2 separate regions of the Homo sapiens genome follow, and region 2 is linked to region 1. The links come from fine-mapping of genetic effects on gene expression. Tissue or cell type: monocytes. Region 1 holds a variant in brackets; the other region holds the start of a gene. All regions are shown on one strand. Distances are from middle to middle. Region 1 overlaps RABEP1 (rabaptin, RAB GTPase binding effector protein 1). Region 2 holds the start of RABEP1 (rabaptin, RAB GTPase binding effector protein 1).

The links. PIP is the estimated chance that this variant, and not a neighbour inherited with it, causes the effect.
Region 2: it holds the start of RABEP1, and the variant in region 1 is fine-mapped to the expression of RABEP1 in monocytes (Quach 2016, PIP 0.95).

What each region holds. Positions count from the first base shown.
Region 1 is chr17:5,302,421-5,310,420 of GRCh38, forward strand. It overlaps RABEP1 (rabaptin, RAB GTPase binding effector protein 1), which reads left to right. Exons shown (of 18, transcript NM_004703.6): 2 at 6,274-6,402. Among named protein-coding and RNA genes, the nearest start is that of RABEP1, 24 kb to the left of the region's middle. The variant G/GA (reference allele first, on the strand shown) is at 4,207.
Region 2 is chr17:5,277,663-5,286,189 of GRCh38, forward strand. RABEP1 (rabaptin, RAB GTPase binding effector protein 1) reads left to right here and starts at 4,622. Exons shown (of 18, transcript NM_004703.6): 1 at 4,622-4,858. The coding sequence starts at 4,825. RefSeq lists a silencer at 4,342-5,061 and an enhancer at 6,909-7,427.

The DNA.
Region 1 (8,000 bases):
GGTATAGATAGGGTTTTGCCATATTAGCCAGGCTGGTCTCGAACTCCTGACCTCAGGCGATCCATCCCCCTCGGCCTCCCAAGATGCTGGGATTACAGTCATGAGCCACCACACCCGGCCAGCTTACCTTAGTCTATAAAGTTACCTTATAAGCTTTTTAATTTTTTAGACTTTTTTTTTTTTTTTTTTTGGAGTGTAGTGGTGCCATCTTGGCTTACTGCAGCCTCAACCTCCCAGGCGCAAGCGACAGGCACACACAACCACACCTGGCTAATTTTTGTATTTTTAGTAGAGATGGGATCTCACTCTGTTGCCCAGGCTGGTCTCAAACTCCTGGCCTCAAGCAGTCCTCCCACCTTGGCCTCCCAAAGTAATGGGATTATAGATGTGAGCCACTGGGCCTGGCTAGGAAAATCTTAAGTGTAGTTTAAAAAATGATTTTATAGACTGTGAGTTTCTTAAGAGCAAAATTTAAAAAATGATTTTTTTTGTGTTGAAATATTTTAAGACCATTAAATTATGAATACTTTTTTATGAGCAAATAGATTGAGGTAGAGCAATAAAATAATTCTTAAAACAAGAAAGATAAAGCATCTCATTGCCTTTTGATTTAAATCTCATCAGCATAATTCTTTTACTACTCTGAATGCCATTTTGGATATTCATTACAGTCTTTTTTTCTATATAATTTTTGTGTAGCTCATACTGTGCTATGTATAATGTATTTACTTAATATAACTTTTTCTGGCTTGGTATTACTTCACTGAATGAATATGTAGGATGGGTAGGATATACCTACCATACTTAATAGTTTTATTTTATTTTATTTTATTTTTTTTGAGATAGGATCTCATTCTGTCACCCAGGCTGGAATGCAGTGGTGCGATCTTGGCTCACTGCAACCTCTGCCTCCCAGGTTCGAGCAAGTCTTGTGCCTCAGTCCCCCAAGTAGCTGAGATGACAGGCACGCACTATCACGTCCGTCTAATTTTTGTATTTTTGGTAGAGACAGGGTTTCGCCACATTGACCAGGTTGGTCTTGAACTCCTGTCCTGAAGAGATCCACTTGCCTTGGCCACTGAAAGTGCTAGGATTACAGGCATGAGCCACTGTGCCTGTCCAATAGTTTTATTTTAAAATCCAGTGAGAAACAAGATAAGACATATGAGTTTTAGGAACTGTTCAGATTCTTTGATCCCACTGGAGTTATTTTTTGTTGTAAATTGATTGAAATAGGTGTTTTCTTGGATTTTGAACATCATTAAACAAAAAGGTTTTGGTCGTAGTAAATTTCACATTGCTTATGTCTTTATCAAATTTAGTGTAAAGATGCCAGGTGTGGTGGCTCACACCTATAATCCCAGCACTTTGGGAGGCCAAGGCGGGCAGATCACTTGAGGTCAGGAGTTTGAGACCAGCCTGGCCAACATGGTGAAACCCCATCTCTACTAAAAGTACAAAAATTAGCTGTGAGTGGTGGTGGGCACCTGTAATCTCAGCGACTTGGGAGGCTGAGGCAGGAGAATCACTTGAACCCCAGGAGGCAGAGGTTGCTGTGAGCCGAGATTGCACCATTGCACTCTAGCCTGGGCGACAAGAGCGAAATTCCATCTCAAAAAAAAAAAATAAATAAAAATTTATTATATTGTTTTACTTGTAAGAGGAACGTAGTAGTAGGACACAGCTTGAGTCTTAGAAATATTTTAAGTTATTGCGTGTTCTCTTGTTTATATCAAAATTATTATTAGGTCTTTACTCCATTTATTTATTGTATTCTTTTTTCGTTTTGTATTGCTGTTGCTATTTGAGACATTCTGAATTGAGTGACATAGTCATTTTTCCCTTTGGATGTCAAGCATTATAAGTAGCCATTGCATGGCTGGATGTGGTGGCTCACACCGGTAATCCTAGCACTTTGGACGGCTGAGGCGGGTGAGTCATCTGAGATCAGGAGTTCGAGACTAGCCTGGCTAATGTGGTAAAGCCCTGTCTCTACTAAAAATACAAAAAAATTAGCCGGGTATGGTGGTAGGCTCCTGTAATCCCAGCTACTTGGGAGGCTGAGGCAGGAGGATCGCTTGAACCCAGGAGATGGAGGTTGCAGTGAGCCAAGATTGCGCCACTGCACTCCAGCCTGGGCAACAAAGCAACAACTCTGTCTCAAGGAAAAAAAAAAAAAGTAGGCAATGGATTAGATAATTTCTCCCTTTTTCTTATTGCTCAAATGAAGGCAACAAATACGGGATGTGTGGAACTGTTGACAAAGGCTGGCATACTGATATTCTCAGCCTTCTAAATTTCAGAAGGTTTAATTTTGTTGAAGGCTGGCATTACAGTAATTAGTATTAGTTTGTTCATGATGCTATAAAGATACATGGTAATAGGGAAGGATATGAGCTGGAAGTCTCAGCATGGAACTGAGTCAGAATCTTGAGGTTGGAAGTGACTTCTGGTCTTTTCTGGCTACATACAAAGTCATTTGATCACTACTTTTTTTCTTTATTCATTAAATAAATACTACCAATTTAATAATGACAGCTAACACTTATCAAGTTTGTTCTATATGCCACACTAAGTACTTTTTACATGAACTATTAGCTAATGATAGTGACCTATTAGTTACCATGTTATAAAAAATAATACAGCATTTTGTGTGATGAGAGCTATTTTCTCCTTGATTTGTGGTTGGTTGCTAATGCATTAGGATATGCTTATTTGTAAACTTTCTCATATTGAGAGTGAATCGATTTGTCTCGATGTTGTAGTAAAGGCATTCTTGTAAAAAGCAGTTTTTTTTGTCTTTCTATATTGTAGAATTGCAGTATGTTAGAAGTACTTGAGGTGGATGATCACTTCTTAAAAATAAAATAAGACAATTACTCGATATACTCTCAAAAGATCATGATTTCTAGAACTGAACACTGTCCTGAAGCCTGGAGAGAGCCAGGCTTTGTGGGTATAGAGTGGGTCTAAACTGTGGGTCAGAGCCATGAAGGGGTTGGGAGTAATGGAAACATACTTAATCTTGGCTGCATCTTTAACAGCTGCATTTTTGTTTTGTTGATTCATTTGCCTCATTTCCTAATTATAAATATATTAATGTTGAGGGGTATGGGTGTTTCGGTTATGTGTGCATTTTGGTAGAAGGTAGGGATAGGAGGGGATACATCTTATTAGAGAAAAATAAGAACAGAGGGATTTTGGTTTTTCTCTTTCCTTGATTCCCCAGAGCCCTTTGTTACCTCTGTACTAATCAGTAGCTACCAGTAATACTAAAGTGTTAAGTGGAAAAGTTGTTTAACTTATTAAACAATGTGGATTTAACAATAAAAATACCAGCAGAATTAGCACAGAGAACAGATTTCTTTCATGATTTCAAAGGGTAATATGAGATAATTGCACATTTTCCTTCCAGTGGATTTCTCATCCCTCTTTTTCTCAAAGTTATCAAACCTTCAGTTGACCAGAAGTCAGTGCTTTGACTTAGAGACCCTACATGTTAGTTCCTCAAAAATTACCATTAGTGACATGGAACTCAAACCAGCAGTCATCCTCTTTCGGCAATGATTGCACTTACACTATTAAATCTATAGTGAGGCTAGTTTCAAGGTCTCATGGGAATGAACACATAGCGATGCTTCTCGACTTACCATGGGGCTATATCCCATTATAAATTGGAAATAACATAAAATGCATTTAATATACCTAAGTTACGGAACATCATAGCTTAGCCTAGCTACCTTAAATGTACCCAGAATGCTTATATTAGCCTGCAGCTGGGCAAAATCTTCTAACAGAAAGCCTATTGTTGACAAAGGCTGGCATACTTACATTCTCAGCCTTGTAAATTTCAGAAGGTTTAATATTGTTGAAGGCTGGCATTATGGTAATTAGTTTGTTCACGATGCTATAAAGATACATGGTAGGCCGGGCACGGTGGCTCATGCCTGTGATCGCAGCACTTTGGGAGGCCGAGGTGGGTGGATCACCTGAGGTCAGGAGGTCAAGACCAGCCTGGGCAACATGGTGAAACCCTGTCTCTACTAAAAATACAAATATTAGCTGGGCGTGGTGGCATGTGCCTGTACTCCCAGCTACTCGGGAGGCTGAGGCAGAAGAATTGCTTGAGTCCGGGAGGCGGAGGTTGCAATGAGCCAAGATTGCACCACTGCACTCCAGCCTGGGTGACAGAGTGAGACTCTGTCT[G/GA]AAAAAAAAAAAAGATACATGATAATAGAGGAGGGTATAAGCTGGAAGTCTAAGCATGGAACTGAGTCAGAATCATGAGGTTGGAAGTGACTTCTGGTCTTTTCTGGCTATATACAAGGTCATTTGATTGCTACTTTTTTTTGTTACTCATTAAATAAATACCACCAATTTAATAATGACAGCTAACAGCTAACATTTATCAAGTTATAGTAAAATGTTGTATATCTCATGTAATTTATTGAATCCTCTAGTGAAAGTTGAAAGTAAAAAAGAGAATGGTTGTATGAGTACCATAATAAAGTGGAAAAATTGTAAGTGAAACCATCAGTTTGAACCATCTGTGTTGGTTTTAGTTCATTGTCAAAGGAATACATATCTGCATAGAAGAGAACTTTGAGAAGCTTATGGAAGGCCAGGTGCGGTGGCTTATGCCTGTAATCCCAGCACTTTGGGAGGCCGAGGTGGGTGGATCATTTGAGGTCAAGAGTTAGAGACCAGCCTGACCAACATGTGAAACCCCGTCTCTACTAAAAATACAAAAATTAGCCAGGCGTGGTGGCACATGCCTGTAGTCCCAGCTAACTGGGAGGCTGAGGCAGGAGAATTGCTTGAACCTGGGAGGCAGAATTTGCGGTGAGCCGAGATCGCCCCACTGCACTGTAGCCTGGGCAACAGAGGGAGACTCCGTCTCAAAAGCATATGGAAGAAATTAATGAGCCATAATTCTGTTACTCATAGATAAATCATTGGTACATTTTTTCCAGTCTTTTTTTCTATACATTTTAAAATCAGCTCTCAATTAAATTGAGTGATTGGGAGAGGGGATAGCCTTCAAAGATAATCTCAGATCTTGATTAAAATTCTAGGCAAATCATCATTATCTGGAGTGACTTGCAGTAGGAAACTTGGCCCTCTGCTGGCCTAAGTAGTTAGTGGTTGATTAGTACTAACCGATATCCCCTAAAGGGATTATGGTCATAGCTTTAAGGCTGGGATGCTGTTGGGGCAAAAGGGGAGATCAGGGGTTTGCACAGCTGGACCTCCTATCTTATGCTTCAATCAAAGGAACCCCTGGGTTTGGTCAGGGAAGGCAATCATTTAACCAGCTGTGTCCAAATTATAGAGTCCATAAAGTAAAAAGTCTGCTAATCTCCGCACACCATGATCAATGTTGAAAACATGGAAGAAAACCAGATTATCTCCCAGTAATTGAGAGTTTATATAGAATGTGCAGTTCTGTATCCTCTCTATGAATGGGTTTTTGATTATGATCTCAGTATAATGGTAATGGATCATTTTGAAGTTGGAAGAATAGTTCAGTCTGGTATGGCTACACTAGTTAGGGAACCTATTAGATTTTGCTTGTGACACTTGAGAGAAATGGGAAATAGCAAGATTGGCAGTAGGTTCATTTGTGGGATAAGTAGTTCAAATAATCCAATATTTAACAGTTCTAAAATTAAATTGCTATTCAGTTGCACAAAGGCACTTTAGAAGCTCTTTTTTTTGTGGGGAAGTTGGCCTTATGTGATTCTCTGTATATTTGTGGTTTCACTTTACATGACTCATTTACAGTTGTGTATTAAGTCTAATACAAGGATCTTTTTTTTTTTTTTTGAGACAGAGTCTCACTCTGTCACCCAGGCTAGAGTGCAGTGGTGCGATCTCGGCCCACTGCAACCTCCGCCTCCCGGGTTCAAGCGATTCTCCTGCCTCAGCCTCCTGAGTAGCTGGGATTACAGGCACCTGCCACTACACCTGGCTAATTTTTGTATTTTTAATAGAGATGGGATTTCTCCATGTCGGCCAGGCTGGTCTCGAACTCCTGACCTCGGGTGATCCGCCCGCCTCGGCCTCCCAAAGTGCTGGGATTACAGGCGTGAGCCACCATGCCTGGTCTGTCTTACTTTTTTTAAACATTAGAATATCCTAGCATATGGTGGATTTTTGGAAGAAGCTTGACTACTTGTTTCACGTATAGCAATGTACAGCTAGAATACTAATTTACTGTTTTATAAATTTATGAATAAAAGTTATTACTTGTTAACTAGTGTTTTTTTCCCCCAGTTTCTCTTCAGCAACGGGTAGCAGAATTGGAAAAAATTAATGCAGAATTTTTACGTGCACAACAGCAGCTTGAACAAGAATTTAATCAAAAGAGAGCAAAATTTAAGGAGTTATATTTGGCTAAAGAGGGTAAGTTCATAAGTCTCGCACCAACTTCAATGCGAAAACTGCCTTAAAGTGTTGAGTTTCTTGGTAGTAGTGTTAATTTTATCATTGAATAAACCTTGATTTTATTTGTACTTGCATAATAAAAGAATACTGTTTAAAGGCTAGGTTAAGAATGGGATTGAAAAACAAGTTGAAAAATGCCTTCTTCAGATTTTGCCTTGTTTTTTGATCTTACTGTTCATATTTAGGTTGCATAGCCTTGAGATAAGAGAATGTTATTGCTCTTAACATTTGGGATACAGTTGTGGGCAAACTAGGATTGTTGGCATTCTAATAACAGCTTTAGCTATGTTATCTTTAATTCCATGAAACATCAGTTTTACCCAACAAATATTCAGTTATTTATCAATAAATATTTATTTAATATCTACTATGAGGCAGACATTATACTTGTGTTGGGTATACAGAAAGAGGAAAATTCATGTGGTTCTTTAACTTGGTTGAACTCAATGAGCAAAACAGATGTTAAGTAATTGTGTGATGAGTCGTTAAAACAGGAAATTGCAGGCTGGGCGCGGTGGCTCACACCTGTAATCCCAGCACTTTGGGAGGCCAACGGGCGGGGGCGGATCACCTGAGGTCGGGAGTTCAAGTCCAGCCTGGCCAACATGGAGAAACCCTGTCTGTACTAAAAATACAAAATTAGCTGGGCATGGTGGCGCATGCCTGTAATCCCAGCTGCTCGGGAGGCTGAGGCAGAAGAATTGCTTGAACCCAGGAGGCAGACGTTGAGGTGAGCTGAGATTGCGCCATTGCACTCCAGCGTGGGCGACAAGAGTGAAACTCCCATCTCAAAAAAAAAAAAAAAAGAAAAAGAAACTGTATAAGGAAAATACATGAGAGAACATGTTGGGGGACCTGATTTGAAGGATCAGGGAAGGGGCTTACCTTCTGAGTATCGACCTAGAATAATGTGAATGTAGTTTCCACAGCTCTCTAGACCAGTGATTCTCAAAGTGTGATTGTGGAACAGCATCATTATCGTCATCATCACCTGGGAAAGTTGTTAGAAATGCAAATGTTTGGGTCCCACCCAGATTTACTGAGTTAGAAACTGTGGGATTTGGGTCCAGCTGCACACTAAATTTTGAAAACTGCTCTAGTCTATAATAGAATAGTGGCTCTCAAATTCAAATGTGGATAAAAATCACCTGGAGAGCTTGTTAAACCACAGTATGTTTGGGTGGAGCCCAGAAATTTGCATTTCTAATAAGCTCATAGATGATTCCAGTTACTGCTAGTTCAAGTACTACAGTTTGAAAAATCCTGTTCTGGACTAGTGATCATGCACCTTTTTTAACTTATGAACTCTGTAAAATATATACTTACATACAACCTTCATACATGTTAAAGTTGATGTTTAAAATTTTTTGCTTGAAAAGATGTGAAGGATAAAATTTTATATTGTTGATATTTACAATTTAAATGAAAGCTTCGTCCTTTTTTTTTTTTTTTTTTGAGATGGGAGTCTCCCCCGACATCTTCCCCTGTCACGCAGGCTGGAGTTCAGTGGCACTATCTCAGCTCACTACAACCTCCGCCTCCCATATTCAAGTGAT
Region 2 (8,527 bases), 24 kb before region 1:
GACTCTCTTGCTGCAATCCCTGCCCATCTGTATGCACTGTATTCCAGGGATTTGAGGACAATCTTCATGGCCCAAGTCATCTACCCTCCTACCCCTAGTGTAACTTTCTTTGATATTTCCATGTATTTTGCACAGAAACTTTTGGATAGATACTTCATTCCTTGGGTCTCCATCCACTGCAGCTGGTCAGTGTCCCTGCAAAAAATGGTGCACAGAACCAACATTGCTGATGTGACCCAATCAGGATAATGTGCAGGAGATGCGTCCGTTCCTATAATCTACACTGTGTGACTATATTAATGAAACATAGAGTGAATGCTTTCTATCAGTTCCACAGAACTTGCTCTTTTTTTTTTTTTTTCAGACGGAGTCTCGCTCTGTTGCCCGGGCTGGAGTGCAGTGGCGCGATCTCCGCTTACTGCAAGCTCCACCTCCTGGGTTCACGCCGTTCTCCTGCCTCAGCCTCCCAAGTAGGTGCGACTACAGGCACTCGCCACCACGCCTGGCTAATTTTCTGTATTTTTAGTAGAGACGGTGCTTCACCGTGTTAGCCAGGATGGTCTCCATCTCCTGACCTCGTGATCCGCCCGCCTCGGTCTCCCAAAGTGCTGGGATTACAGGCGTGAGCCACCGCACCTGGCCAGTTTGTTCATTTTCATTGCTGTAGAATATTCCATTGTATGTTAAAACTTTTTTTTTTTTGAGGCAGAGTCTCGCTCTGTCGCCCAGGCTGGAGTGCAATGGTGTGATCTTGGCTTACTGCAAGCTCCGCCTCCTGGGTTCACGCCATTCTCCTGCCTCAGCCTCTCCAGTAGCTGGGACTACAGGCACCCGCCATGATGCCCTGTATGTTAAAACTTTTTAAAAATCTAGTCCACTGTTGATGAACATATGAGTCCTTTATTTATCGTATTATGAACTATGCCACTGTGAATATTCGTGTGTCTCCTGGGGCACATGGGCAATGTCATTGGTAACTAATTATTTCATGTGTTTATGTCTTATTCCCAATTTCCTTCAGAACATAAGAATCACATCTTTTATACTTAGTAAAGACTTTGAGCATACATTTGTTTTCCTAAAATATATTCCTAGGGGTGGAACTGCTGGGTCTTAAGGTTTACCTAAAAATACGAAAATGTTCAATATTCTTGATGCTCCTATCTGATTTCAAAATGGCTTTTTAACTACTTCCCTCACATGGAGAGCCCTAGGTGTCCAAATCATATGCCTGACCATTTCTGAGGGACCTTGACTTGAGGGCCTGGCTTCAAGCCTCATTATCAATGGCAACAAATTTGCCACTCTCTCACTGGAAGGAGCCCCTTCTATTTTATTTTTATTTATTTCTTTTTTTTGAGAGGGAGTCTTGCTCTGTCGCCCAGGCTGGAGTGCAGTGGTGCAATTTTGGCTCACTGCAACCTCTGGACCTCCTGGGTTCAAGCAATTCTGCCTCAGCCTCCCGATTGTAAGTGCCCAACACCACGCCTGGCTAATTTTTGTATTTTAGTAGAGACAGGGTTTCACCATGTTGGTCAGGCTGGTCTTGAACTTCTGACCTCAAATGATCTGCCCGCCTCGGCCTCCCAAAGTGCTGGGATTACAGGCGTGAGCCACCACACCTGGCCGCATCTGCTATCTTTATGGCTTATGCCTCGTGTTAGTCATCACAACAATACAGAGGATGCACTGGGCTGCCCTATCCTGGCCAAAGGTCTTCCTGGTAAGCATGGATTTGCTCATCCAGGAAAATCATTTATGGGGGGTTGGGCAGGGTGTTGGGGAGACCCTGCTTGCTCTCTCAAATGCACACCAGCCATTTGGGAGACATTAACTGCTCAAAAAACTCGAGTCTGTATTTTGGCTCTCCTCTAACGATGGCAGGACCTGGGGCAAAAGTACAAATAGATACCTAAATTATTTAAAATTACAAACCAGTTTGGACGTGGTGGCTCACACCTGTAATCCCAGCACTTTGGGAGGCCGAGGTGGGTAGATCACTTGAGGTCAGGAGTTCAAGACCAGCCGGGCTAACATGGTGAAACCCTGTCTCTACTAAAATTACAAGAGTTAACTGGGCGTGGTGACACACGCCTATAATCCTAGCTACTCAGGAGGCTGAGGCAGGAGAATCACTGGAATCCGGGAGGTGGAGGTTGCAGTGAGCTGAGATGGTGCCACTGCCCTCCAGCCTGGGCAATAGAGTGAGAGACTCCGTCTCCAAAAATTAAATAAATAATAAAATAAAATAAAATTACAAACTACTCCAATTAACCGCTAACCTTAATACAGTCTATCCTTCTACTTGGACAAATCTACCTGTTTAAGACCTGGAAGACCAGGTTTAAATTTAGAATTCCTGGGCTCCTGGGAGTTATGCCCATGAATGAGGTGGCGAAAGCAGCACAGGCCCTGGCCCAACTATTGTCTCTTGGCTCACTTGCCTTCTTTTCTCACCTCTGTCCTGCACCATGAGGGATCTGTGGACATAGGAGCTCAAACACCCAAGTGTCGTGTCACCCCCTTAAAATAAAACAAAGCTGCCCTTTAGCCTCCCTTTTTTTCAGTGAGAAATAATCATTTTAATAAAAGTATACCTTATTTAAAACAAATGATTTAAAGAAAGTAGAAACTGATTCTAATTAGTGGATTTTCTGATTATTATTATTATTATTTGAGATGGAGTCTCGATCTGTCGCCCAGGCTGGCAGTGGTGCGATCTTGGCTCACTGCAACCTCCGCCTTCTGGGTTCAAGCAATTCTCTGCCTCAGCCTCCCGAGTAGCTGGGAGTACAGGCGCCTGCCACCACACCCGACTAATTTTTTGTATTTTTAGTAGAGATGGGGTTTCACCATCTTGGAGAGGCTGATCTTGAACTCCTGACCTCGTGATCCACCTGCCTCAGTCTCCCAAAGTGCTGGGATTACAGGCGTGAGCCACTGTGCCCGGCCTATTATTATTTTTTTATTATACTTTAAATTCTTGGATACATGTGCTAAACGTGCAGGTTTGTTACATAGGTATACATGTGCCATGGTGGTTTGCTGCATCTATCAACCCGTCATCTAGGTTTTAAGCCCCGCATGCATTAGGTATTTGTCCTAATGCTCTCCCTCCCCTTCCCCCCACCCCCCACAGGCCCCGGTGTGTGATGTTCCCCTCCCTGTGTCCATGTGTTCTCATTATTCAATTCCCACTTATGAGTGAGAACATGAGGTGTTTGGTTTTCTTTTCCTGTGTTAGTTTGCTGAGAATGATGGTTTCCAGCTTCATGCATGTCCCTGCAAAGGACATGAACTCATTCTTTATGCTTTCACTTTAGCTTCTTTTAGGGATGTCTAGACTCTGCCATAGAGAGAATGGATCTGGGAAAGAGACCACAGCTTCAGCCATCTGGAAAGGGAATTCTGGGGCCACAAGTATTCAGAACTTGGTCCTGAAGTGCCAAACCCTGTGGACTCCCTCATCCTGGGGTGGGATTGCTGGGTCTTAAAATGTACATAATTCCTGATGCTCCTCTCTGATTTCAAAATAGCTTTTTAGGCCGGGCGCGGTGGCTCACGCCTGTAATCCCAGCACTTTGGGAGGCTGAGGCAGGCGGATCACGAGGTCAAGGGTTTGAGACCAGCCTGACCAACATAGTGAAACCCCGTCTCTACTAAAAATACAAAAATTAGCCGGGTGTGGTGGCGTGCGCCTGTTGTCCCAGCTAGTCGGGAGGCTGAGGCAGGAGAATTGCTTGAACCCGGGAGGCAGAGGTTGCAGTGAGCCGAGATCGCACCATGGCACTCCAGCCTGGGTGTCAGAGTGAGACTCTATCTCCAAAAAAAAAAAAAAAGCTTTTTAAACTACCTCCTTGGCATGGGGCACTCCAGGTGTCGAAATCAGACGGGGAGTGGTGATTAGAGGGGAGTTCCTAAAGTATAGGGCCCAGGGGCCCAAGTATAAGGGCCACACTTTGTGTATATGATTTCTCCTTTCCTGCCATGAGTGCAGGGTCTGTACCTGGCTGTATCTCCAGCATCTATCACGACTGAAAACCCAAACGTATTTGCTGAATGGATAGTATACTGGCCTCTGCACCAGAAGACCTGGGGTCCAGGCCCAGTACTGTCGGAAACAGTTCTTCATACTTTATTACCTCGTTTAAACTTTTCTTAGCCATTATATTGATAAAAATTCCAAGAGGTGAAGTGACTCTCCCAAGGTCGCAAAGCTAGAAGAGGTAGAGGCTGGAACTGCACCCCGCCATCGGTCCTCCTCTCTTACTCATTTTTTTTTTTCCCCTCACTGTGCTGGGGTGGAGAACCGGGACCGGCACCTTCGAGAGGCCAGGCCTCTGCTGCAGCCCCTCTTCTCCAGCTCCGCTCGGCACTCAGCCTCCCCGCGCCGCTGGGTCAGGCGCCCAGCTCCGCCGAAACCCTCCCCTCCCGCCGCGCTCCCTCCGCGCTCCCTCCGCGCTCCCTCCGCGCTCCCTCCGCGCTCCCTCCGCGCTCCCTCCGCGCTCCCTCCGCGCTCCCTCCGCGCTCCCTCCGCGCTCCCGAGGCCCCGCCCCTCCCCTCGGGCCAACGTCACGTGCCGCCCCATCCCCCTGCGCCTGCGCACTGCTTATTTCCCGCTGTCAGGATGAGGAGGCGGAGGTCGGCGGTCGGGTCCGTCTCTGCCCGCGGCTGTGGCGGCGCCGGCGGATCCAGCCTTAGCGGTTTCTCTCTGGGCGGCGGCGGCGGCGGCTCGGTTGACGCCTCCTCCGCCAGCTGAGCCCGCGGGAGCCCAGGACGCCGCTTCCCCGCCCATCCCCGCTCCCCGAGGCCGGCCGCCTGGTCATGGCGCAGCCGGGCCCGGCTTCCCAGCCTGACGGTGAGGCGCCCACCATGGCAGGCGCGGCGGGCGCGGCCTGCCCGGCGTCGGCGTCGCGGGAGGATTTCGGGGCGGGCAGGCGGCGGCAAGGGCGCGCGCAGGCCCCGGGGGTGACCCCGCCGGGCGGAGGCGGGGGCGCGCGGGCTGCGGCGCGCGAGGGCGGCGCGGGCGCCCCGGCTGCCGTCGCTGGGGAGGGGGCGGGAGGCGCGGGTGCAGCGCTTGCGGGAGGGCAGAGGGAAGGGCGTGGGGAGGCTGCTGGGTAGCGTGGGGTAGTGTGGGGAGGGAGCGGTTCTGGGTAGCGGGGGACCGGCACGTGGGTTCTGCCCGTGGGGGAGGATGGAAATCGGGAACATGTGCTATATTCGTTAAAGAAAAAAAATCTTAGCTTAGGTAGTGTACCCTCCCTGCCGCCCCAATCCTTGCTATAGAACTCTTTGCACCCAGTTATGTGACCTGAAAGTAGTTGTGTACAGTAACTGGATTTAGTAGCATTCCCTGAATGGCAGTGTGGCTTAATGGTTAAGTGTTGGGGCCTGGGAGTCTAGAGGACCTGTATTCTTAACCAGCAAGCTCTGGGCTCATTTCTTAGCCTCGTTGAGCCTCAGTATTCTCACCCACGAATTAACCAAGAGGTTAATTCATGCCTTTATATTTTATCTATAAAAATAGCAACACGAATGTGTATATACAATAATAGTATTATGGAGGTATTAGGAATAATGAGAATAGTGTTTGAGAATGCTGAGGCCTACTTGCACTACTTGAAGATATTTGCTTGTGGAACTAAAAAAAAAAAAGTGAAGTCGAAGAAATGTGTCATTTATATTCTTGGAAGGAAAAAAGGGCCCCATCCTAAATAATCAAAGTTGGTTGTCAGAGCCCTTCGTGACCTTCTGGGAAATTGGACTAAGCTGTGCTTCACAGATTGACTACATGGTTCCAGGTTTTACCACCTAGAATAGATGTTTGGAAATAGTGTGCTTGGGCTTTTCCAAGGTCCCACTGTATCTAGTTGTGAAAGTACTTTCTGGTGTATTTCTATAATCAGCGTGTGTGCTTAGCATCTTTAAGTGTGAGTAGAGTAGAATGTTGGGAAAAGGGGCTTGGTACGGAGTAGGTACTTTAAAACTTGGCTTTCCTTGGGGTTGTCTCAAAATAACCTTTCGTGAAACCCTTACTTTTTATTTTTGCCTTTGGGGAACTTGAAACCATGTTATCAGATTTTAAGGTTCTGGCTGCTCTCTGGGAAATGTGCTTCAGAGCCTGTTAGCCTGTAGTTTTGGGTGTTGTTGCTTGCCTAAGGGGAGATGTCCAGTAAGCATTTAGACTTTTATAAGAACCTGCTTTGCTGTTTCTGTTCCAGGAGAAGGGAAGGGAAGCATTTTTGGTGGGCTGTCAGAGAGAGGAAACTGGGATGTCTTCAGGCTGCATTTTAATGATCACCTTTTGCATTTGGTGTCAGGCAAGAAAACTTTGTTCTTCCACAATCCCACTTTGTTACTGCACACAGAGGCAAGATACAGAGAGCTTGTGGTTCTGAACAGGAGTGGTAGGTATGCATAGCTGGCTGCTGCCTTCTCTTGAGTTGCATGGAAAGAAACGTCTAGGGCAGCTCAGGTGACATGACCGTCTGGAATCAAAATTCCCTGCCTCTTTGAAGATATGAAATGGTCTTCCTTGTAAATAGGCAGAAGTGACTAAGCACTTGAACGAGGCTAGGGAAAACTAGCTTTAGGAAATCTTGTATTCTTGGTATTTTAGTTCAGGTTTCTTTCCTATTTCTCAAATCTTGTGACTCTAGGATGAGATTTAGTTTGCATAGATTGCAATTTTTATTTTAAATTAATGTAGGTAGCCATGGCTACTTTTTACAGTAGGAGAGAGATAATTTGGTACGTTTGAGTGCCTTGTGTCAGTGCCTTAGAAGTTCATCTTGGGGATTTTAATTTTTTTTTTTTTCTTTGAGACAGTATCTCACTCTGTTGCCCAGGCTGGAGAGCAGTGGCGCGATCTTGGCTCACTGCAGCCTCGACCTCCTGGGGTCAAAGCAATCCTGCTACCTCAGCCTCCCAAGTAGCTGTGACTACAGGTGCATGCCACTATTCCCAGCTAATTTTTGTATTTTTGTAGATACGGCGTTTTGCCATGTTGCCTAGGCTGGTCCCAAACTCCTGAACTCAAGGGATCCACCTGCCTACACTTCCCAAAGTGCTAGGATTGTAGGTGTGAGCCCGTGAGTCCGGCTTTTGGGGATTTAATTTGTGTCTTTAGCTGAACTCATGTAGACCATTTTAGCTTTAGGCACGTTTGAATTTCCTAGTCCTGCTGATTAAAAAAAAAAAAAATCGCCAGAATTCTTTTGTGTCAAACTGGTGGTGAAAGATAACTAACTGCTTAGTCTTTGACTTTATCTTGTTTTATCCTGTTTCAGAAGCGATTGTCTTTGATGACTTTTTAAAAAAAAAAAAATATTGTCTGTTTTTCATGGCCATATGGTAGATTAGGAAAATCGATTTGTGTGTAAATCGAAGGGATGAAATGTAATCATTTTATTCATTGTAATTATTTTGTAAGTTAAAAAAAGTTTTGGGTTTTTGATACTGCATCTTAGTTTACTTATTTGGAATACAGGTAATTTTAATAGTTAAAGAAATTTCAGTTGATCTGTTTTCCCTTGAGAATTTAAAAATGAAAATTTTCTAATTTTAGTATTTCTTTTAATCTAAGTTCAACTATATCTTTGAAGCATTTGCTCTGGTTTTACTTCACTTTTTTTCTTTTTTTTTTTTTTCTTTTGTAGAGAGGGTCTCATTGTGTTGCCCAGTCTGGTCTTGAACCCCTGGGCTCAAGTGATTCTCCCATCTTGGCCTCTCAGTGTTGGGATTACAGGCATGAGCAACTGCACCCAGCCTACTTCATTATTTTTTATTCTTGCCATGTTGGCCAGGCTGGATTCCTGATTGTTTCCTGTTAGTTACACAGACATGCTACCTTTTACCCCTGAAGGACATGCTTTACATACATAAGTCTGCAACTTCCCTATCTCACTTAATAAATGTTAGCTATCATATTATATACTCATGGTTATATGGCCATGTAATGTTCTGCAAACACTATAGGCATTATCTTAGGAAATCTTCATAGCAATGGTACTATTGAATATTACTGCTTCTATTTTCTTGATGAGGAAACTGAAGCACACAGAAGTTAAAGAAACGTGCCTGTGTTATACAGCTATTAAGTGGGGGAGCAGGATTCAAATCCATGCCATCTGGCTTATGTACTAGATCATGGACTACTTCCAGGTCAGTGTTGTAGGCCTTCTTCATTCTTCTTAAAGACGATCTTATCATATGCATGTACCAGGCATGATTTATGGCCTATTTCCCTATTGTGGGGCAAGTAGATTGTTTTCAAATTTTAATTATTTTATAAGCAGTGTTGTAATGGATGTCCTTGTGCATATTTTTTAAGGTACTCTTTTACTTCTGTAAGACTAGTGAATTAAATAAAGGGCATGAGTTCCGAGTGGTTTAAATTTTAATACCTGTTGCTAGCTTACTCTCCAAGGCATCAATTTACATACTTGCCAACGATATATGGCAGGTGGATTTCCCCTGTAATCCTACAAGCTCTGGATGATGTCATTTGTTTTAAATTTGTGTCTTT